Linked DNA regions of Homo sapiens. The protein of the gene in region 2 purifies or fractionates together with the protein of the main gene of each other region. This does not show direct contact. Each region holds a gene or a part of one and is shown on either strand. Other genes may lie near its edges.

What was found. Proteins that work in one complex are often made in the same cells at the same time.
Region 1: the proteins of FADS3 (region 2) and ALG14 purify together in Homo sapiens (affinity purification with mass spectrometry; 2 studies listed by BioGRID and IntAct, with this or other methods). This does not show direct contact.
Region 3: the proteins of FADS3 (region 2) and YTHDF1 purify together in Homo sapiens (affinity purification with mass spectrometry; 2 studies listed by BioGRID and IntAct, with this or other methods). This does not show direct contact.

What each region holds. Positions count from the first base shown.
Region 1 is NC_000001.11:95,069,945-95,077,620, forward strand, and holds the start of ALG14 (UDP-N-acetylglucosamine transferase subunit ALG14), read right to left. Parts: upstream 3,008-7,676; 5' UTR 2,955-3,007; coding exon 2,819-2,954; intron 1-2,818. UniProt on the Homo sapiens protein: Part of the UDP-N-acetylglucosamine transferase complex that operates in the biosynthetic pathway of dolichol-linked oligosaccharides, the glycan precursors employed in protein asparagine (N)-glycosylation.
Region 2 is NC_000011.10:61,888,526-61,896,223, forward strand, and holds the start of FADS3 (fatty acid desaturase 3), read right to left. Parts: upstream 3,021-7,698; 5' UTR 2,857-3,020; coding exon 2,644-2,856; intron 1-2,643. UniProt on the Homo sapiens protein: Mammals have different sphingoid bases that differ in their length and/or pattern of desaturation and hydroxyl groups.
Region 3 is NC_000020.11:63,206,125-63,213,145, forward strand, and holds part of YTHDF1 (YTH domain-containing family protein 1), read right to left. Parts: intron 1-7,021.

The sequences.
Region 1 (7,676 bases), on a different chromosome or scaffold from region 2:
CCTTTAATCCCAGCGCTTTGGAAGGCAGGAGAATTGCTTGAGGCCAGGAGTTCAAGACCAGTCTGGCACACATAGCAAGACACCATCTCTATTTTTAAAATTAATTAATTAAATTAAAAAAATTATCTGATCTACCTTGTTTGACGGTAGGTCATAAGACCCCCATTCCAGAGAGGGCCCTACCCCACATCCAGAAGGAAAGGAATGCATGCTCAGAGAGACCAAGAAAAATCTAGACAGGCCTTGCTGGGCTTCCCTACTGTCTATTAGCATTAAATTATACCCTTTTGTCCAGTCATAATTCTACATGGCTGTCCATACTTTGCTGAACCTAAGCATAAAAACAGACCATTTCCCTTGTATCTCTGGGTCTTCATTCAGAACACTTTCATATATGCTTCATAAATTTGTATGCCTTTTCTCCTATTATTTCTGCCTCATCAGTGATTTTCAGTGAAACTTCAGAGGGCAAAAGGGAAGTTTCCCCTTGGCCCTTACAGTAGCCAACCAAATCTTGTATCTGTATGTTGGCCTTTGTATGGAAAATATTGTAATTTTGTTCAGCATCTCTGTTCTTGCGTATACAAACTACCTTCATTCTTCCCCACATGGGGAGCACTGATTACATTCTTTGGTATAGGTTTGCTCCCCAGACACCCAATCTCACGCTTTGTGCTTGAATAAACTCTTCTAACTGGATATTGAGCCCTTTGATTATTTTAGGTTGACACTATATGTCAAGCACTTTACTGAACACTTTATTTTTTAATTTAAGCTTTTGATTATATCATTTTATTTTATTTCATTTTGAGACAGGGTCTCACTCTGTCAACCAGGCTGGAGTGCAGTGGCACAATCTCAGCTCACTGCAACCTCCACCTCCCAGACTCAAGTGATCCTCCTACCTCAGCCTCCCAAATAGCTGGGACTATAGGTGCATGCCACCACATCCACCTAATTTATTTATTTATTTTAATGTAGAGACAGGGTTTCACTATGTTGCCCAGGCTGGTCTCCAACTCCTAAGCTCAAGCAATCCGCCTGTATCGGCCTCCCAAATTGCTGAGATTACAGGTGTGAACCATCACGCCCGGCCTAAACACTTTAAATATGATCCTATTTAATCTCTCCTGTCCTCTCTCAACCCATGTAGAAACAGAAGGTTCAGCGAGGTTAACTAATTGCCTGAGATCCCCAAGGTAGTAAGTGGCAGAAATGTGATTCATGTGTGGTGTTATGACAACCTAGAGGCCTGTGGTCTTAACCCCTACATGATATCAACAGTGGAGTAGCAGCAATTGCTTTATAAAGCAGGATTTTAGGCCAGGGGTGGCTCACGTCTGCAACCCCAGCACTTTGGGATGCTGAGGCAGGAGGATCACTTGAGGTCGGAAGTTCAAGACCAGCCTTGGTCAACATGGTGAAACACTGTCTGTACTAAAAATACAAAAATTAGCTGAGTGTGGTGGTGCGCCTGTAATCCCAGCTACTCGGGAGGCTGAGGCAGGAGAATGGCTTGAATTTGGGAGGTGGAGTTGCAGTGAGCTGAGACTGCGCCACTGCCCTCCAGCCTGGGCAACAGCGTGAGACTCTGTATAAAAAAGAAAAAAAGCAAGATTTTAAATACTCTTTACAATCTGGACTCAGTTTACCTCCCTACATTGAACTCTACACGATAGTGTTCTCTCAACTCTGGTCATTCCAAGTGTTATCACCTTCTTTTCACATCCTCCCAGCCCTCGAAACCCTGGCTGTCCCTCATCTGACTAATTCTGGGTCATCTTTCAAGTTTCAGTTTAGCATCATTTCTTCCAGGAAGCTGTCTGTTTTTTAAGACCTGATAAAGTAGTGCCCTTCCTGAAGACTGCCATAGCAATTTGTACTTCTTACACAATTATTACAAGATTATAGCATTTATCTCATTGTGGCAAATACTCATTTTGATTTATTTTCTGTTAGTTTTTTTGTATTCTCTATTTCATTTACTGCTGTATCTTTGCATCTCTCACAGGACTTAGCACGGAGTCAGCACTCCGTGGCAAGTAATGTTAGTCAGTTTTGTTATTTCCAGAGGTTAGTTTAGTGTTTGGTCTTTCTAACAGCTCAAAACAGATTAAGTGAATAAAGTAATGCGTTATACTTGAACATAAACTTAGTACATTTACTCATACTATACATGTTCTATCTGGATGCAATCTCCTGCCATACCCAAATGTTTACATTGTGTCTGTGTGTGTCTGTCTGTCCCTGTCAAATATGTGTATTTAAAATTGTAAGCACCTACAGAGTTGGTGGATTTAGATTGTATTACCTGACAGGTCAGTGTGTTGCTCACACTCTGCCACCGCGTGTGTATTGTTCTACAGCCCGTAGATCATTGTTTTTATCCTCTTGGACTTTGTATATTTATAAATGTGACAATTCATTTTGCCTCATTTGTCATGTAGCATTCGTGTTTCCTAAACTAAATACGCAATACCTAGATTAATAATGCACAACAGCCATACGGGGAAACTGCATGTTTGCATCAAAAGGCTTCTACGTTCTCTGTTCACTAATTGTTTGAAAAATATACGCTACAGAGAGTCTTAATTATAGACAAGTGTAAATTACTTGTCATAAAAAAAACCTCTGGGCCGCGTCAGCAAACCAGCCCCTACCCTGGCTGGACTGCCCGGTTCCGGCAAGGCAGAGAAACTACAAATCTCTGCATGCAACACTCCAAGAAGTGCTAAGGGTACCAGGGAAGAGCGTCGCGGTGCACTCTGGGGTTTGTAGTGACCAACCCAAGTCCGACAGTCGCCTCCTCGATACTTACCGGACCCAGCCACTACCAAGATACTGAGAGACTCCCGGGGCGTAACGTCCATGGAACGAAGCACTACCCATATTCGCAGGATTAGGAAAACCGCCACAGCTCCTGCGGCCGCAGCTAGAACGAGAACGCACACCATGCAGAGAAACGGCGCATGCGTCCAACTTCCGGGGACCAGCCGCTGTCAAAGTTCACAACTACGGGTGCCGAAGCGACTCAAACGCGGAGGACGCACGTCTTGGTGGGCTGGTCTTTCCTGAGCTGGGAGGAGTGGAGGCGACGGAGAAGCTGAGGTCCCAGTCACAATCCATTTTACCTCATTTATCATGTAGTATTCGTGTTTCCTAAACTAAATACGCAATACCTAGATTAATAATGCACAACAGCCATACAGGGAAACTGCATATTAGCGTTAAAAGGTTTCTACGTTCTGTACGTTCACGTTTGTCAGCGGAACCCCTGCTTCTGCGCGGATTGTGCGCAGCTGCAGCCAAGCGTAAGCTGAAAATTGTAAAGTTAAGCGCTGGGGAAGCTTGATTTACGCCCACGACGAGGTCAGGCAGTCTCTGCGCCCTAAAGGTCCCGAAACTCCCCAGTTAGGAGGTGTTCTGGCTCTGTCAACTTCGTGAATGCCACCTGAAGCTAAGGGAATACATCCTTTCTTTCTTTCTTTTTTTTTTTTTAATGCCAAGAGAAATGTTTCTGTTGCACACAGACATTACTGAAAGTGTTCGCCAGTAAGGACCCTAGGCTTAAACATCGAATTTAGGGCCCTCATCCAAACCCCCTGTCTCCCAACATGTATGTTTTTAACTTTTCTCGAGGTTTTCACAGCTCTCAGTGTGACCAGAGTAGTTGAGGGTGACCACCTAAAGGTAAGCCACACTCCTAAGAGGATTGCAAAGCTCAGTGGCTCTAGGTAGCAGGATAGACAAGGCACAGTCCTACAATTAATATTCAGTTAATTTTATCACAAAGCATTTCCAGTGTGTTTCTCATGTCCTCAGCCAAAATGATGATCTGCCAACACCCCCTTCAATCTCAATTTTGCTTATGTCTAATTAATTAATTGTTAATAAATTAATTATGTCTAATTAATCCACATTACGACAACATAAAATACTAAGATCAGGAGCCCCTTCACCCCAAATATAATTTGCCTTCGGTCCACCATAGACCTACCTGTAGGTTATATTGAACAGGTATACAGATGAGTAAAAAGGTTCAGAAAGGTGCAACTGCTTGCCCAAGTGGAATAGCGTCAGATCTAGAATCAGAAACCAGAAATCTGAGTCCTGCTGGACAGGAGTACTGCATCCTGTATTCCTTTGCTAAATTCAAACTTGCCTGATCACCACACTTACCTGGAGCCTAGAATGTGTTATTAAAGGTGCAGACTCCCAGGGTCCATTAGGAAACACTGAATCAGAATTTCCGGGGATCGGGCACCTGGGATTAGCTTATGTAACCAGCGTGTCCATTCCTATCAGCAAGCAAGTTTGGGAGACTTTGTGAGTAGAGTCCGTGGACCTTACAACACTTTCCAAATTGTCTTCCATCAAATCTTCTTTCTTTTCTTTTCTTTTCTTTTTTTTTTTTTTTGAGACAGAGTCTCACTCTGTCGCTTGGCTGGAGTGCAGTGGCACAATCTTGGCTCACTGCAACCCCCACCTCCCAGGTTCAAGCGATTCTCCTGCCTCAGCCTCCCAAGTAGCTGGGACTACAGGCATGCACCACCATGCCTGGCTATTTTTTTTTTTTTTTTTTTTAGTAGAGACAGAGTTTCACCATGTTGGCCAGGCTGGTCTCGAACTCCTAACCTCAGGTGATCTGCCCGCCTCTACCTCCCAAAGTGCTGGGATTACAGGCATGAGCCACTGCGCCCGGCTCCATCAAATCTTCTTAACTATACATTCTCGCAGTAAGACCTTAAAGTGGATATTAGTTCCCTTTTTACAGACAAAGAAGTAGATTCCATAAAAGTTAAATAATTTGCCTAAGTCTACTTAGCTAGTAAGGGTGGAGAAAGTTCATAGTTGTGGACTTAGAAGTCAGTGTCTCTCAAATTTTAATGGAATCAGAATTCTCTGGGCTTACAAATGCGTAGTTGGAAGTCCAGAGGTAGGGTCTTTGGTGTAGTAAGAAAAACAGCTCAAGGATAATACAAGGAGTATCATTTACTTGTATATGCCCACTCTGCCATTCCTAATAATGTCTTCAACCTGAAACAGTCTTACCTGATACTTAAGACACTAGTGGTCCCAGAATGGGATGTGTGGATGGTTACATCCAACAGGGCAATCTCCATAGCCAAAAAAGAGGTTATCTTGTCGGGTCTTTTTTGCCCCTCCCCCCCAGTCTTGCTCTGTGGCACGGTCTCGGCTCACTGCAACCTCCACCTCTGGGATTCAAGCAATTCGCCTGGCTTAGCCTCCCAAGTAACTGGGACTACAGGTATGCGCCACCACACCCAGCTAATTTTTGTATTTTTAGTAGAGACGGGGTTTCACCATGTTGGTCAGGTTGGTCTTGAACCTGACCTCATGATCCGCCCACCTCAGCCTCCCAAAGTGCTGGGATTATACGGGTGAGCCATGACGCCCGGCCTGCTTTATTTTTTATTTTTTTAAAGGCAAGGAAACTTATTCTAGAACCCCTCACAGCAGACTTTCTTTCACTCCTTTTGGCCATACTTATATCACTTTCCCAGGCATAAAAGGAAAGCGACTTCAAAGCTGGTGGAGGTGGGAGGAGGATGATCTACAACTCACCTGTAATACATGGCTGTTGGATGGAGGGTGGGTACTGAACAAAATAGGCATTCTCTCAGTGAGGAGGAAGCTGCAGGGAGGGTTGTTGGGTAGGCAAACAATAGCATCTAGATTGCTGTGATGATGATGTGTCTGAAACAGCTTTGTAAACTGACACATGCAATGAAAATGTCAGGCATATGATAATTACTTAGCTCCAGGCCCCAAGCTCTATATTAAGGTAGATTTAATACTTGGAGGACACCCTTGCATTTCCCATTACTTCATCCCCTCACTATTATAATTACCTATATCTGTAGGAAATATTAGTTTGACCACACTTGGCATGTAGCTGGAATGAATGGAAGCAATCAAACATTGGGGGCTTGCAAGGAAATGCAGAGAATCAAAGAGGGTGGGGTACCAGACATTGTTTGGACTTATTGGTTGAATTATTCTGAATTAAGGTGATCATAAAACTCTTTAGTTTTCCTGCCAAGAAAGTTGAGAACTGCAGGGAGCAGCTAGGTAGCAGGCAGGGACAGGAACATAGCTGAGAATTCCTGCCAAAAATGTCACCTGGGTAAGCCAAGTCCTGGGCTGTGACAGACACAGAATGTATAGATAATCAAGAAGTCAAGAAGCTGTAGTGGGCCAGGCATGGTGGCTCATGCCTGTAATCTCAGCAATCTAGGAGGCCAAGGCAGGAGGATCACTTGAACCTCAGAGTTTGAGACCAGCCAAGGCAACAGAGTGAGACCCTATCTCTGTAAAAAATTAACCAGGCATGATGGTGGTGTGTACCTGTAGTCCCAGCTACTCAGGAGGCTGGGGTGGGAGGTTTGCTTAAACCCAAGAGATCAAGGCTGCAGTGAGCCATATTTGCACTACTGCACTCCAGCCTGGGTGACAGAGACCCTGTCTCAAAAAAAAAAAAAAAAAAAAAAAAAAAAAAAAGGCCAGGTGCGGTGGCTCATGCCTGTAATCTCAGCACTTTGGGAGGCTGAGGAGGGTGGATCAGCTGAGATCGGGAGTTTCAGACCAGCCTGACCAACATGGAGAAACCCCGTCTCTACTAAAAATACAAAATTAGCAGGGCATGGTGTCACATGCCTGTAATCCCAGCTACTCAGGAGGCTGAGGCAGGAGAATTGCTTGAACCCGGGAGGGGGAGGTTGCAGTGAGCTGAGATCGTGCCATTGCACTCCAGCCTGGGCAACAAGATCGAAACTCTGTCTCAAAAAAAAAAAAAAAAAGCTATAGTGGATTAATCAGGAAAGTTAAGACTGAGTGAGAAGAAGCAACAATTAAAATTTCTCTTGGGAAGATGAGTTGCGCTGACAGTACATTTAACAGATTCATGGAAGTAAATTATAGTGCTGCAAAAAGCATGAAAACTATGTTAATAGTTGACAAAATGAATAACGATATGTGGTCTATAACCAGTCATAAGTAAAGCATGTCTGGGAGGTGATTTTTTTTTTTTTTTTTCTGAGACAGGGTCTCACTCTGTCACCCAGGTTGGCATGCAGTGATGCGCTCTCAGCTCACTGCAGCCTCAACCTCCCTGGGCTCGGGAGATGCTCTCACCTCAGTGTCCCAAGTAACTGGGACTACAGGTGTATGCCACCATGCATGGCTAATTTTTGTATTTTTTGTAGAGTCAGGGTTTTACCACATTGCCCAGGCTGGTCTCAAACTCCTGAACTCAGGCAATCCACCCGCTTCAGCTTCCCAAAGTGCTGGGAGTACAGGTGTGAGCCACGTAGCTCAGCCTGGGAGGTGATTTTTATTCTCTTCTTTTTTTTTTTTTTTTGAGACAGAGTCTCACTCTATCGCCCAGGCTAGAGTGCAATGGCGCGATCTCAGCTCACTGCAACCTCCGTCTCCAGGGTTCAAGCCATTCTCCTCGCTCAGCCTCCTTAGTAGCTGGGATTATAGGCGCCTGCCACCACATCCGGCTAATTTTTCGTATTTTTAGTAGAGACGGGGTTTCACTATGTTGGCCAGGCTGGGCTCGAACTCCTGACCTCATGATCTGCCCGCCTCGGCCTCCCAAAGTGCTGGGATTACAGGCATGAGCCACCACACCTGGACAATTTTTATTCTCC
Region 2 (7,698 bases):
GTGGGGCCTTGAGGGAGCTAAGAGACAGCCTAAAGTGTCCCTTTCCTACTTCAGATAGGACCGTAACCAAATAAGGTCACCCAGGAAAGGGGTAGCCGTGCAGGGCTGTCCCACCATACGCTGCAGTTTGCAGGGCACGCTCACACTTAGGGGCCAGCAGCATTTACCGAATACAAACTACTACCTGGCAGCCCTGGGCCATGGGCTTGAGGAGACACAGTCCTGCCCTCAGCCAGCTCACTGTCTGCCCCAGCTCTCCCACTTTACAGATGAGTAAACTGGGGCACAGAGGAGTGACATGCCTGCTTCAAGGTCGCTCAGTGCCTCCAATAGCAGAGCTGGCACCCGGCCCCAAGGAGCAGAGAGATGTTTTTTGTTTGTTTGTTTGAGACGGAGTTTTGCTCTTGTTGCCCAGGCTGGAGTGCAATGGCGCGATCTCGGCTCACCGGAACCTCCGTCTCCTGGGTTCAAGCGATTCTCCTGCCTCAGCCTCCCAAAGTGCTGGGATTACAGGCATGCGCCACCACGCCTGGCTAATTTTGTATTTTTTTAGAAGAGACAGGGTTTCTCCATGTTGGTCAGGCTGGTCTCAAACTCCCGACCTCAGGTGATCTGCCCACCTCAGCCTCCCAAAGTGCTGGGATTACAGGTGTGAGCCACAGCGCTCGGCCTGAGATGTTTTTAAAACAGATATTATTGGCTGCGAATCAATGAGAAAACTGTGTGATGGAAGTCTCAGGATCCCAAGCTAAATGTTAAGTCAGTAATTCCACTTGGGAGGAACCCCAGCATGGGCCTGGCACCAGGCAGGAAACAGTGATGAAATAAAAGCTTTCTGTATCCCAGCCGGGCGTGGTGGCTCACGCCTGTAATCCCAGCGCTTTGGGAGGCCGAGGTGGGTGGATCACGAGGTCAGGAGTTCGAGACCAGCTTGGCCAACATGGTGAAACCCCGTCTCTACTAAAAATACAATATGCTGGGCGTGGTGGCGCGTGCCCGTAATCCCAGCTACTCGGGAGGCTGAGGCAGGAGAATCGCTTGAACCTGGGAGGCGGAGGTTGCAGTGAGCCAAGATGGCGCCATTGCACTCCAGTCTGGGTGGCAGAGCAAGACTCTGTCTCCGGCGGTTGGTGGGGAGTAAAGTTTTCTGTATCCATACTGTCCTCTAGGTTACAAAAGACTAGAGCAGGCCGGGAGTGGTGGCTCATGCCTGTAATCCCAGAACTTTCGGAGGCTGAGGCAGGAGGAATGCTTGAACCCAGGACTTTGAGACCAGCCCGAGCAACATAGTGAGACCCTGTCTCTATTTTTAAACAAATAATAATAAATAAAATAGATACTTTTTTAGAAAAAGACCAGAGCAGGCATCCACAAGACTCCTTGAAGGGAGGCCAGGGCTCAGCAAGGCCTTTGGGGAGAAGCCGTGCCCCTCACCTCGCCACGCCCTGGCAGAAAGGCAGGCACACACACCACACTCACCCAGACATGCAAACACCTGCACGCTCAAATACTGCCCCCAGGCTGCTTCATCCCACGGCTGTGCTGTCCCCTCGGGCCAGCGTCTGGCGCCTGAACAGCCACGGACAAGGCGTTCTCTTTTTTTTTTTTTTCTTTTTTTAGAATTTCAGGAGGATTCTTATTCTCACTCCTCAGCTTCATGGGGTGGAAGGGGAAAAGAGGGGCTTTCTTCCTCAAAGAGTCCAGTGAAGATTGTCCAACATGCTGGAGATGGCAATCGGCAGAGAGCAGGTGGCCCTGTCAAGAGGGACGCCGACAGTCCTGGGACTGGACAGAACCTCCGCTGCTGCCCAAAAAGCCAGCATTCAGGATTCATGTCCTCGGGTCTTGAAGACCTTCCTGATACCCAGTGTGGCCAACCTAGAAATTTGGAGGGTCAAGGACAGGGCATCGTGGCCCCAACCCCTATTATGCAGGTGGGTAACTAAGGAAAAGGGGCTGGTCGGGCTGCTCCACCACTGGACTCCAGCCAGACAGTACCCTGGGGCCAGGCTACATCCCTGCCTGTCTAGACAGGGGCTGGGATTGGGAAGTTGGGGTCCCCAGGGGCCAGCCTGTTCCTGGGGTGACTGTGCTTCCAGGAGAGGCCCACCCAGCCTGGCTGGCAAAGCCCTCCCACGTGCAGCTGCTAGCCCGGAGAGGTGAGTCACTGTCCCTGAGCCCTTTACAGAAGCTCTTGGGAAAGCCACAGACCTCAGGCCGGCCCAGCCCCCAGCCTCTAATGGCATGTCCTTACCGGCCCCTGGGGACCCTGCCCTGCCCTACCCCTAGCACTCAGCAAGCACCCAGCATGGGGACCCAGAACTGAAACAGGGACCTGGGAGCAACAGGGCAGCCCCTCACCCAGGGCAGGCTCTGCAGCATGACACACCCACCTCTGAGGCCCCCTCCTCCCCCGCAGACCTGCTCCGTGGACAGCTGCGGGTCCTCCACGCAGGGAACTGCCCTCCCTACCCCACATCTGGCCCTGGCTAGTCCACCCCAACTCTGGGTCCCGGCGTGGAGGTCAAAGGTCAGCGAGGGGAGGGAGGATGCTAAGGCCCCACAGGTGGAGCGGGACATCACGCCCACGACCGAGCTCCAGGCTCCACCCGCCGGTGGGTGGCTTCCTTATGGCTTCCTTACCGTGGCGTCCTCAGCGCCGTGGTGGCCGATGAGGCGGCTGCCCCCTGGGTGCCGCTGTGCCCAGCGGCTGATGTCGTAGACGCGGCGCTCGATGACCAGCCACTTGTCGCCGGGCTGGTCGTGCGCGCGGATCTGCTCCCAGCAGAAGGTGGGCAGCGGCGCCCCCGGCTGCGCGGGTCCCTCCCGCGGTCCCGGCTCCCCGACGCCGCCCATGCTGCACGCACGAGTCCTGGGGATCCCAGGCGGTGGCCGAGGTCCGAGCAAGACCCCGAGGGAAGCGAAGAGCGCTCCCGGGCGCCGCCTCCGCCGCCGCCCGCTGCTCCGGCCCCGCCCTGCCGCCGCGGCCGCCGTACGAGCGAGCGTGCGCCTCCCGGCTCGCGGCGCAGGGAACTCCCCGCCTTATAACCGCGCGGACGGCGCCCGCCTCGCCTCGCCTGCCCCCCCGCCCCCGGCCAGGCCCCGGCCCCCAAGGCTGGCTGACCCCCCGCGTCCGCTCCAATCCAGGCGCGGGGCCTCGGTCTCCATTGGCCGCCAGGGAGGGCGGCGTCGAGGCGGCCCGCCCCTCCCGGGAGGACAGCGGCCGCCACCCAGCCCTGCCCCGGGGCACCGTCCCGCCCCCTTTTCCCGGGCTGCCGGCTTCCAGGTTCTTGACTCCACCCGGAGCGCGGGGCCTGGGGACACAACACGCACCTGTTGGGCGTCCCGCAGCGCCTCGCCACGCCCTCGGGAACCGGAGGCGGAGTCCCGGTCTGTGAGCAGCGGGGCCTGGGGGGCTTCCAGCCGCGCGTCCTGCAACGTCAAATCCAGTGCGCCCAGAGGGGGGACGCTGTCTCGGGGTGCCTGTGAACAGCCTTCAAACCATGGGCCCCAATCTCTGCGGGGCCCCCACCGCCGCTGCAGCTCTCTCGGAGCCCTCTGCTGGGGGCGGGTGGCCTCCCCTCCGCCCTCGGCGCTGCAGGGCTGGGGATGCCCAGGGGTGGCCAAGGGGGAGGTAGGGGAGCAGGAGGGCACTGGCGCGTGGAGGCGGGCGCTGCCATCCATGGGCTGAGGACACCTGTGCTTGTTACTGCTTCCCCGCCCCTCTTTTTTGTTTTGAGACAGGAGTCTCACTCTGTCGCCCAGGCTGCAGTGTAGTGGCATGATGTCGGCTCACTGCAGCCTCAACATCCTAAGCTCAGGAGATACCCCCACCTCAGTCTCGGGAGTCCCCAGCTGGGACTACAGGCGCGCCCCATCATACCCGGCTAATTTTTGGTGTTATTTTATTTTTGTAGAAATGGGTCTTGCCATGTTGCCCAGGCTGGTCTTGAACTCCTGGACTCAAGTGACCCTCCCGCCTCCCAAAATGCTGGGATTACAGGCATGAGCCACTGCACCCGGGCCCCATCCGCTTTTTTTAATTTAAATACATTCAAGTCCTTTTGAAAGTGTAGGTAGCTCCCCTAATTGCTTCGGATTTCTTTGTGATAAATATACCTGTTCCTAAAAGTTAAGCGTTCACAGCAGCAAGGAATTCAAATCAGGCTAAAGTTACTTCCAGAGCGCTGGTCGTCAATCTTCCATCAGAACCACCTGAAAGGCTTCCATCAGAACCACCCAGGAGGGTTATTCGGTGGGTCTGGTGTGGAGGCAGAGACTTACATGGCCAGTTCACAGGTGATGCTGACCGGCTGGTTGGGGAAATGCACTTAGAAAACCCTAAGTATATTTCTCTGATATGCTAATATTTTGTCTTGGTCTAAAGAGGACCAGTATCCCCAGAAGGGCAGAGGGGGCGAGTTCTCCCTGGTACCAGGAGCTCCTGCCTTTGCTTGTCAGGACATCCAGCAAGGCCCATGATGTCATCAGGCACCGGGGCTGCCTGGGCCCTCTCCACTGAGGCACCCACTGACCATATCCTGGAACCCCAACCTGGCACATGTGTGTGGGGGTGCAAGAGCATGGCTGGTGGCCCTGGCCCAAGGGGGCTGCAGGCACCCCTACCCCGTACCATGTTCACACAGCACAGGAATGGAGAAGGCAGATTCTTGAAGGAATGCATCCCCTGCACCAAAATCCACTGAAGGCATGGACCTGGCCCTGGCCCCACCTTCAGCAGCCCTGAGTGGTCAGATGTGGCCATCCTAGGGGCTTCTTCCTTGGAGCCAGCCCTGGCCTGGTCTCAGCCCCTGTGTGTGAGGTGGTTGGGGGTTGTGATAGGTTAGAACCTCCACTTTCCCCAGCTGCCCCCAGAAGAGATGGGGAAGATGAAGGGGGGGCCACAGAATCATGCAAGAGCCGTGAGTGAGGGCAGGGATCACAGCCCTATTGGCCAAGTCCTCCTCGAAGGGATCACTGTGGAGGCCAGGCGGAGCTCCTCAGAATGCTCCTCAGGAAAGAGGGGCTGCACACAAATGGGCAACACACACACGAAAAGGTGCTCAGCATTGCTAATCATCAGAGAGCTGCAAATGAAACCACAATGAAATACTGTCTCACACTTGTTAGGAGGGCTCCTATAAAAAAGAAAAAGGCCTGGAATCCCACCACTTTGGGAGGCCGAGGCAGGAGGATTGCTTGAGCCCTGGAGTTCAAGACCAGCCTCGGCAACATAGCAGGAACCCCGTCTTTAATAAATAAATACATAAATGAAAAAATCATGCCAGGCATGGTGGTTCACGCCTGTAATCCCAGCACTTTGGGAGGATCTCTTGAGCCTAGGGGTTCGAGACCAGCCTGGGCAACATGACAAAACCCTATTTCTACAAAAAAAAAAAAAAAAAAACTAGCAGGGCATGGTGGTGCGTGCGCCTGTAGTCCCAGCTACTTAGGAGGCTGAGGTAGGAGGATCGCTTGAGCCTGGGAAGCAGAGGTTGTAGTGCCCCAAGATCATGCCATTGTACTCCAGCCTGGGCTACAGAGGGAGACCTGGTCTCAAAAAATCAAATCACACGTGTTGGCAATGATGCAGAACCCTTGTGCATTGTGGGTAAGAATGTGAAGTGCTATAGCCAACTATAGAAAAGAGTATGAAAATGGCTTTAAAATGCCTATGATTCAGCAATTCCATTTCTGGGCATATACCCAAAAGAACCGAAAGCAGAGTCTTGAGGAGATATTTGTACATCTATTTTCTTAGCAGCATTATTCACAATGGCCAAGAGGTCATTGTGAGGCAGCACAACTGTCCATCCACAGACACTGGATAAACAAAACGTGGTCAGGCCAGGCGCGGTGGCTCACACCTGTAATCCCAGCACTTTGGGAGGCTGAGGCGGGCGGATCACCTGAGATCAGGAGTTTGAGACCATCATGGCCAACATGGAGAAACCCTGTCTCTACTAAAAATACAAAAATTAGCCAGGCATGGTGGCGCATGCCTGTAATCCCAGCTACTCAGGAGGCTGAGGCAGGAGAAAGGCTTGAACCCAGGAGGTGGAGGTTGCGGTGAGCCGAGATCGCACCATTGCACTCCAGCCTGGAGTAATAATTAATTATAATATAATAAAATTAAAAATAAAAAATAAAACGTGGTCTATGCATACAATGGAATATTATTCAGTCTTAAAAAGGAAGGAAATCCTGTCACATGCTACAACAGATGGACACTGAGGACATGAAGTGAAAGAAGCCAGTAATGAGAGGACAAATACTGCATCATCCACTTAAATGAGGGCCCTCGTGCAGTGAAATTCATAGAAAGTAGAATGGGGGTTGCCTGGGGCTGGGAGGAGGTGGAAATAGAGGGTTGATTAATGGGTACAGAGTCTCAGTTTTGTGAAATGAAAATGTTCTGGAGATGTTTCGGAACACTGTAAATGGACTTAGCACTACTGAACTATACACTTAAAAATGGTTAAGGGAGGGCCAGGCACAGTGGCTCACACCTGTAATCCCAGCACTGTGGGAGGCTGAGGCGGGCGGATCACTTGAGGTCAGGAGTTCAAGACCAGCCTGGCCAACATGGTAAAACCCCGTCTCTACTGAAAAAAAAAAAAAAATTCACACACAAAAAATTAGCTGGGCATAGGGGCTCATGCCTGTAGACCCAGCTACTTGAGAGGCTGGGGCAGGAGAATTGCTTCAACCCGGGAGGCGGAGATTGCAGTAAGCCTAGATTGCGCCACCGCACTCCAGCCTGGGTGACAGAGTGAGACTCCGTCTCAAAACAAAACAAAACAAAAACAACAATTAAAAAAAAAGAGTTAAGGTAGTACAAGTTATGGGTTTTTTACCGTAATAAAATGAAAAAGGCAAGGAGGCTGCGAAAGCCATTTAGTCCTATATTTCCAACTCACAGATGAGGAAACTGAAGCCCAGAGAGGAGCGACTTTGCCCAGGTGCACAGCCCCGGCAGGAGTTCCATCAGGACAGTCTTGGCAGACTGGAAAGCATCCTGCAGGAGTGAAGCACGCCAGTGCGCAGCTGGTCTCGGCTCAGCGCCTCCACCCTCAGAGGCCAGAGTCGTTGCTAGGTTTGAAGAGGGGGCCAAAGAGGGTTAAAATGTTCACATGTGCCAGGGGTACTCAGAGAGGCCCAAGTGGGTTATCTAGAAAATCCATTTAAGAGGAACAACTCCCTCGTGGCTGATGTCGGCTAACCCTCCCCAGCCACCTTTAAGCACATTGCAGGTGTCTAGGAAAGGGAATCCAGGATGCTGGTTCATACTGTGGGCTCCAGGGCTGGCCTCATGATTCCTATCCCGGGGCCATCATTTCCTCTGTGGCACTTCTGTGTGCCTCATTCTACTCATCTGCAAAATGGGAGAATAGTACTCTATAAGGTTGCTGTGAGGATGAAATGAATTAGATCATTTAAAGGGTTTAGAATCATGCCTGGCACAGTCAGTGCTCAGCTATTATCTCTCGTTGGGAGATACTGAGAGTGTATGTCCATCCTCCAGGCATTTCAGTTCTCTGTTTATGACCCCACTTGGGGTCTGACAGCAGGCTATGCCATTGCAGGGGCAGGCAGCGCGGGTCTGGGGTATGGGACCCTCTGCCTGGCCCCTGGAGTGTGGTCTGGTGTCTCCTAGGTCTTCAGTGTTGCTGGGCCAGGAGCACAGAAGCTGGGGGT
Region 3 (7,021 bases), on a different chromosome or scaffold from region 2:
ACAGGGAAGCCAGCCCTCCTCCTCCCATTAGCTGGACACGTGCTCCTCAGCAGCGCTGCAATCACAACACATCTTCCTTCCACGCAAAAAGAGCAGATGGGAAAAAAAGACCTCGATGGCTGTGTGGTATTCTAATCCACTTGGCCCCAACACCAACCAGAGGAGTCAGGCCACAGAAACAGATGCCCAGGGACACTTCTGACTTACACCTAAAGCCTTAACTAAGACAGGACATCACTTACCACATGAAAAAATCCACATTACATGAGGCATGTAACATTCCTGAAAATCCGTTTTAAGTATTAAATGGACACACCTAGCACACACGCTGCACAGACAGAGAGCCCATAAATGACCCATCCAGCTTCCCTCTACCCAAGGTGCAGGGCCTGCAGTTCTAGCCAGTACTCTGCAAATCCTTCAGCTCCAGATCACCACCATTCACATCCTGAGCCACAGAAGACGGTGACGCTAATCAGCTCTGCTGGCAGCCCTAAACCCTCCTGATACTTTCTGTGCTCACCGGGTTCCACGGCCACACAGGCAGGCTGGATACAGTGACCTGGGGTTCTGTGGGCCGGATTTCCATTTTTACCTCAATCTCACTGACAGCCCATTTCCTATTACATCTGCCATCTTTCCTCCAAAACTCTGAAGGTAAAGAAGCAGGTTAATTTGTAAAGCTATGTGAAGTCAGTCATTCTGTACATAAGAAAACCTGGAGATGCTGTCCTCTGCCTTCTTTATGAGCCACATGTCAGGCTGCTGCCCCACACTCCTTCCCTGGTGAGGGAAGCTGTCCCATTCACAGTCCTGGTCACAGTGCGTGGGAGACAACTGGAAACGCACAGTTCGGGCTGCCTGGAAAACACATGCAGCCTCCTTTCAGGGCCTTTGATCTCCCTTTGTCTCCCGCACAGCCAGGCACAGGTTCAGCGCTCACTCGCTGCCAAGTGCTGGAGGCGAGCTGTGCTGCTCCCTCAACATTCCTTAGTGCCACGGCTCCATGGGCACTGAGTTATGAGTGTGAAAGTTTACTTCTCAGGGATACAGCTGCATTAACCCCGGGCACGGTGACTCATGCCTGTAATCCCAGCACTTTGGGAGGCTGAGGTGGACGGATCACAAGGTCAGGAGATCAAGACCATCCTGGCTAACACTGTAAAACCCCCCTCTCTACTAAAAACACAAAAAATTAGCCGGGCGTGGTGGTGGGTGCCTGTAGTCCCAGCTACTCAGGAGGCTGAGGCAGGAGAATGGCGTGAACCCGGGAGGCGGAGCTTGCAGTGAGCCGAGATCGAGCCACTGCACTCCAGCCTGGGTGACAGAGCAAGACTCTGTCCCCCCCACCCCCCTCCAAAAAAAAGAACAAATTCAAAGCTTGTTCTTAACACATTACTACCTCTGAGCAAGCATATTTTGGTCCTCGTAAATGAGTGGCATAAACAGATCTTTTAAGGACAATACAAGCAAAACCATGATCCTGTTACTCTGCAGCCGCCTCCACAGAAGACTGCTGAACACTTCCACATGCTAGGCGCCTCACTGCAGCCCCTGCGGAGAACTGACGACCTCATCGAAGAAAGGCTAACACATTTTTAGCCGGGCACAGTGGCTCTGGCCTGTAATCCCAGCACTTTGGGAGGCCGAGGCAGGTGAATCACAAGGTCAGGAGTTCGAGACTAGTCTGATCAATATGGTTAAACCCCGTCTCTACTAAACCGGGTATGGTGGCAGGCACCTGTAGTCCCAGCTACTCCGGAGCCTGAGGCAGGAGAATCGCTTGAACCTGGGAGGTGAAGGCTGCCATGAGCCAAGATCACGCCACTGCACTCCAGCCTGGGTGACAGAGTGAGACTCCGTCTCAAAAAAAAAAAAACAAAAACAAACAAAAAAGAACTAAGAGCAGTTTTACATATTTACTCAAATTTAACCACATTAAAAAAAAGAAACTTCCATCCGAATGACCAGAACCATTTAAGTTGAAGTTCAATGGTTAAGTTTACTTCCTATATCCATTTTTCTGAGATGGAGTTGGAATGACCAAAAGGAGAGACTAGAGGGAGAAGCAGAAAGGATCCCTTCAGAAGCCCAAGAGGAACAGAGAGAAGCATTTGCTTAATAAAAACAAACAAACAAAACAAAATAATTAATTATGTAAAATGGAAAAGTATTAAGGGTACTGCTGAAAAGTGAGGGAGTGATATGGCTCCTGGGAAGCAGCTCTGACCCAGGACTGGGAACAGGCCTACCAGGATGACCTGTTCTTCAGGAGAAGCCTTAGGGAGCACAGAGAAAATGTTAGAGGAAAATAACCGAAAAACCCTAATTTACTTACTTGGCTGCTCACTTTTCAGATCTGTTTTCAGGACTGGTCCCTCTGAGGCTGCAATTTCAGCCCCTCAGCTGGTGGCATCAATATGCAGAGACAGCAGTTTCTGACAGAATTTCTGCATTTGTTTCAGCAACTTGCCAGTAAGAAGCACGTTAAGATCCCACTATGTCCTTCCAGCTGCGTTTCTGGGAAGCCGTTGTGATGGCAAATGCCTACTTAGCAGGCGCTGCCACTGGGTATTTTAAGGAAGCCCATATTTTTAGATGCAGCCACAAGAAACTGACACTCCCCTGCTGGCCCTCAGGTCACCCCGGGCCCACCAGAGCTGCCCAGGCACAGCAGGAAGCCCTGTGCCAAGCATCTCCAGGCTGTTCTCAAAGAAGTCCTAGATGCTCTGATGAGGCATTGTGTTCAGTGAAAAAAAACCACCCAAAACCTGATGAGCAATTTCGTCACTGTGTGATCAGTGTCCTCACACAAACAGAGACGTGTGAGCATGGAGGCAGTATCCTTACCACACACTGAGGCCGTAACCTGTACAGTGTGTAACTGTACTGAATAATGGAAGTAACTGTACATCAATGATAAGTATCTGTGTGTCTAAACATTATCTAAACACAGAAAAGGTACAGTAAAAATACGGTATAAGAAATCAAGAACGGGACACCTGTACAGAGCACTTACGGTGAATGGAGCAGGTAGGCCTGAGTTGCACTGGGTGAGTCAGGGAGAGAATGTGAAGGCCTGGGCCCTCACTGGACACCACTGTCACCTTTAGAAACACCGTCCACTTAACACTACACTCAATTTTTAAATTTTCCTTTCTTCAATAATAAACCCTAGCCTACTATGGCTTTTTTACTTTACAAACTACTTTTTTAAAAGCTTTAAGGTTTTTGACTCTTTTGTAAACACAAATATATCATATAGCTGTACAAAAATTTTTTTTGTTATATCCTTATTCCATAAGCTTTTTTCTATTAAATTTTTTTTAACTTTTTGAACTTTTTTGTTATAAATGAAGACACGGCCAGGCACAGTGGCTCATGCCTATAATCCCAGCCCTCTGGGAGGCCGAGGCAGGAGGACTGCTTCAGCCCAGGATTTCGAGAACAGCCCAGGCAACACAGTGAGACCCCATCTCTACAAAAAATCAAAAATAAGGCAGGAAGATCACTTGGGCCCAGGAGGTCAAGGCTGCAATGAGTCATGACTGCACTTCCGCCCAGGTGAGGGAGAGACCCTGCCTCAAAACAAAACAAAACAAAAAAACCAAAAACCCAAAAAGACACAAAAAACACATATTAGCCTAGGCCTACACAGGGTCTGGATCTTCCACCTCCACATCTTGCCCCACTGGAAGGTATTCAGGGGCAACAACACACATGGAGCTGTCATCTCCTGTCACACCAATTGCCTTCTTCTGGATTCCTCCTGAAGAACCTGCCTGAGGCTGCTTTACAGTTGACTTTGTTTCTAGTAAGTAGGCAGAATATGCTCTTAAAAGTATAGCAAATACACAAAGTAGTAACAGTCGTTTATCATCAATTATTACGTACTGTATGGTACTGTACGTAACTGTAGGTGTATACTCTGGTATGACTGGGGCAGTAGGTTTGGTCACACCTACTGCAGCACCACAGACACGAGTAATACACTGCCCTCAACATGGTAGCTCCAACGTCACCAGGTGCCAGGAATTTTTCAGCACCATCATAGTCTTATGGGACCACTATCATATTGTGGTCTGTTGCTGACCAAACTGCATCCGGCAGCACAGGTACAGGCATGCCCAGATGGCCTTGGTAATTTCTGTCAGTGGGATCACAGCAAACACACTCAGTCTGTTGGTCAGGGAGTGTGCAGGAAGCCTGGGGGGCCAGCGGCATCTATTCCCAACTCAGGCATCATGCCAAGACAGTGTCTTCTAAACTCTGAGTAGGAACTGTTCTGGGTCATTTCACAGTCTTTCCTTTCAGAAAACAACAGAGAACTGGGAAACCAGAAGTCCCCGAGCAGGAAAAGCCTCAAAAGAGAGAATCGGCGGGGCACTGTGGCTCATGCTTGTAATCCCAGCACTGTGGGAGGCTGAGGCAGGGGGATCACCAGAGGTCGGGAGTTCGAGACCAGCCTGACCAACATGGAGAAACCCCGTCCCTACTAAAAATACCAAAAAAAATTAGCCAGGCGTGGTGGCGCGTGCCTGTAATCCCAGCTACTCGGGAGGCTGAGGCAGGAGAATCACTTGAGCCAGGGAGGTGGAGGCTGCAGTGAGCTGAGATCGCGCCACTGCACTCCATCCTGGGCAACAAGAGCGAAACTCCATCTCAAAAAACAAAAAAAGAGAGAAAATCACAACAATCAAGCCCAACCCAGAGCCCTTCACTCCCAGTTCCTCTGCTCCCCCAACTCCCATTCAAGTCACAGACTAGAAGACAGATACTGAGCGGCTACAGTCGCAAGCGCCTCAGGGGCAACTAGGACTGAAACTCTAGCACCAGAAGCACAGCAAGGCGGGTGAGGCCTCTCTGAGGGAAGGACCCCCACCACACGGCAACAACCCCTCACAGCCCATTACAAGTTAAACCAACCTAACAGGCAGGCATTCTCCTAAGACTTTCTAAACCATTCTAAGTATGACAGTTTCACACAAAACACGGTAGCCTCCAACTGGCTACTACAAACCATATCTAGATTTTTCTCTTTTAAGTACCCAGGGTTAGGTTGGGCACTAGTGGCTCATGCCTATAATCCTAGCACTTTGGGAGGCTGATGCGTGTGGATTGCTTGAGCCCATGAGTTCAAGACCAGCCTGGGCAACACAGCAATATTTCATGTCTACTAAAAATTTAAAAATTAGCTGGGCGTGGTGGCACATGCCTGTAGTCCTAGCTACTTGGGAGGTTGAGGTGGGAGAATCACCTGAGCCTGGGAAGTCGAGGCTGCAGTGAGCCATGATCACATCATGCACTCCAGCCTGGGCAATGGAGTGAGACCCTGTCTCCAACAAAAAAGGACCCAGAGCTATTGATATGCCCACTATCTTAACTGTGGCCATGGCTCCAAAGGTATGTCTGTGTAAATCAAAAGTTATAAAACCATACTGTATACTCTACATATGGAGCTAAGACACCCACTGACATAAAAATAATCGATTTGTAAAGAAATCCTCCCAAACAACACAAAAGCTCCGACTTTATAAAAATATTTTTGGCTGGGCACAGTGGCTCATACCTGTAATCCTAGCACTTTGGGAGGCCAAAGCAGGAAGATCACTTGAGCCCAGAAGTTCAAGACTAGCCTGAGCAACACAAAGAGACCCTGTGTCTACAACCAACCAATCAATCAATCACCAGGTGTAGTGGTGCATGCCTGTAGTCCCAGCTATTCAGGAGGCTGAGGCAGGAGGATTGCTTAAGCCCAGGAATTTGAGGCTACAGTGAGCTATAATCATGCCCCTGAACTCTAGCTTGGGTAACAGCAGGACCCTGTCTCCAAAATACACACACACACACACACACACACACACACACACACACACACACACACTTTTAAGTGTACTGATGCAACCTCCCTCCCCCTTTATTGGCTAAAATTCAGTACATAATACCATTAAAGTACTAAAATAATAAGAACACACTAGAAAACAAGAAATTCAAAAAATTAGTTAACTTCCTGCCATTACCTCTATCCAAAGGCCCATCACTAAAGTCAAGTCAGTTCTGCCCAGAGGAAGGGCAGATTCTCAGAAGGCAACCAAGAGACAAGAAACAGAAGCAGGGTCGGAGCGCGGGGCAGCGCTGCCGAGGCTCCACCTGTACAAGGTTTCTTGGTCTCTAAGCTGCTTGATTCGCCAAGTGCAGTAGGAGGGAGGGGGATGAAGGAACATTCTAAGAAGTTCTAAGACACCTCAGAAAAGGGCAGACTAGTTTTATTCCTTCACAGAGAAGAGGTGAAGCCTGGTTTTACTTTAAAGTAAACATGCCCAGTAGCTGAGGGCTACTTGGAGTGGCGGAGGAAGGAATGTGAATCACAGCACACGAAATGGAGCACTCAGAGCATCTGCTTTGTGCTGCCCCATGAGGCCTGCTCACCAAAGTGAGGAGCTCACAGAGGTGCAGCCCCTCATCCAAGCCAACGGCCTGGAGGTAGGAAAGTGAGGCAGGGGAAGTCTGATTCCCGAGTTGGACTCTTAGACATAAACAGATACCGCTTCTCTTGGGAGTTTTGCTGCAACAGCAGCACAGAGGAGAGAGAGCAGCTCCCAGTAGATTTTAACCAGGGCAACTGTATCCCCCAAAAAACATCCACCAAGACAGTTTTGCTTGCTACAACTGGGGATGGGGAGAAGGAGTTGCTAATGGCATCTAGTGGGTGGGAAGCCAGGGAGGCTGCTAAACATCCAACAATGCACAGGACAGCCCCCAAAACAGAATGTTCCCGTGCAAAATGTCCACAGTGCCAAGGCAGAGAAAGCCTGAATTACCTAAGAAAACAGGGCAGCTATGACTCACTGGGCCCTGCTGTATCAGGTACTGTCTCAGCGCTTTATGTGCACCATCTGATGTCATCCTCCCAACAATTCTACAAACAGTTACTACTCTCTCTCTTCTACAGAAAAGGAAATTGAGGCAAGAGAAGGCAAGCCATGGACACAGGCCAGTCAGTGGTGGAGTTAAAATTGAA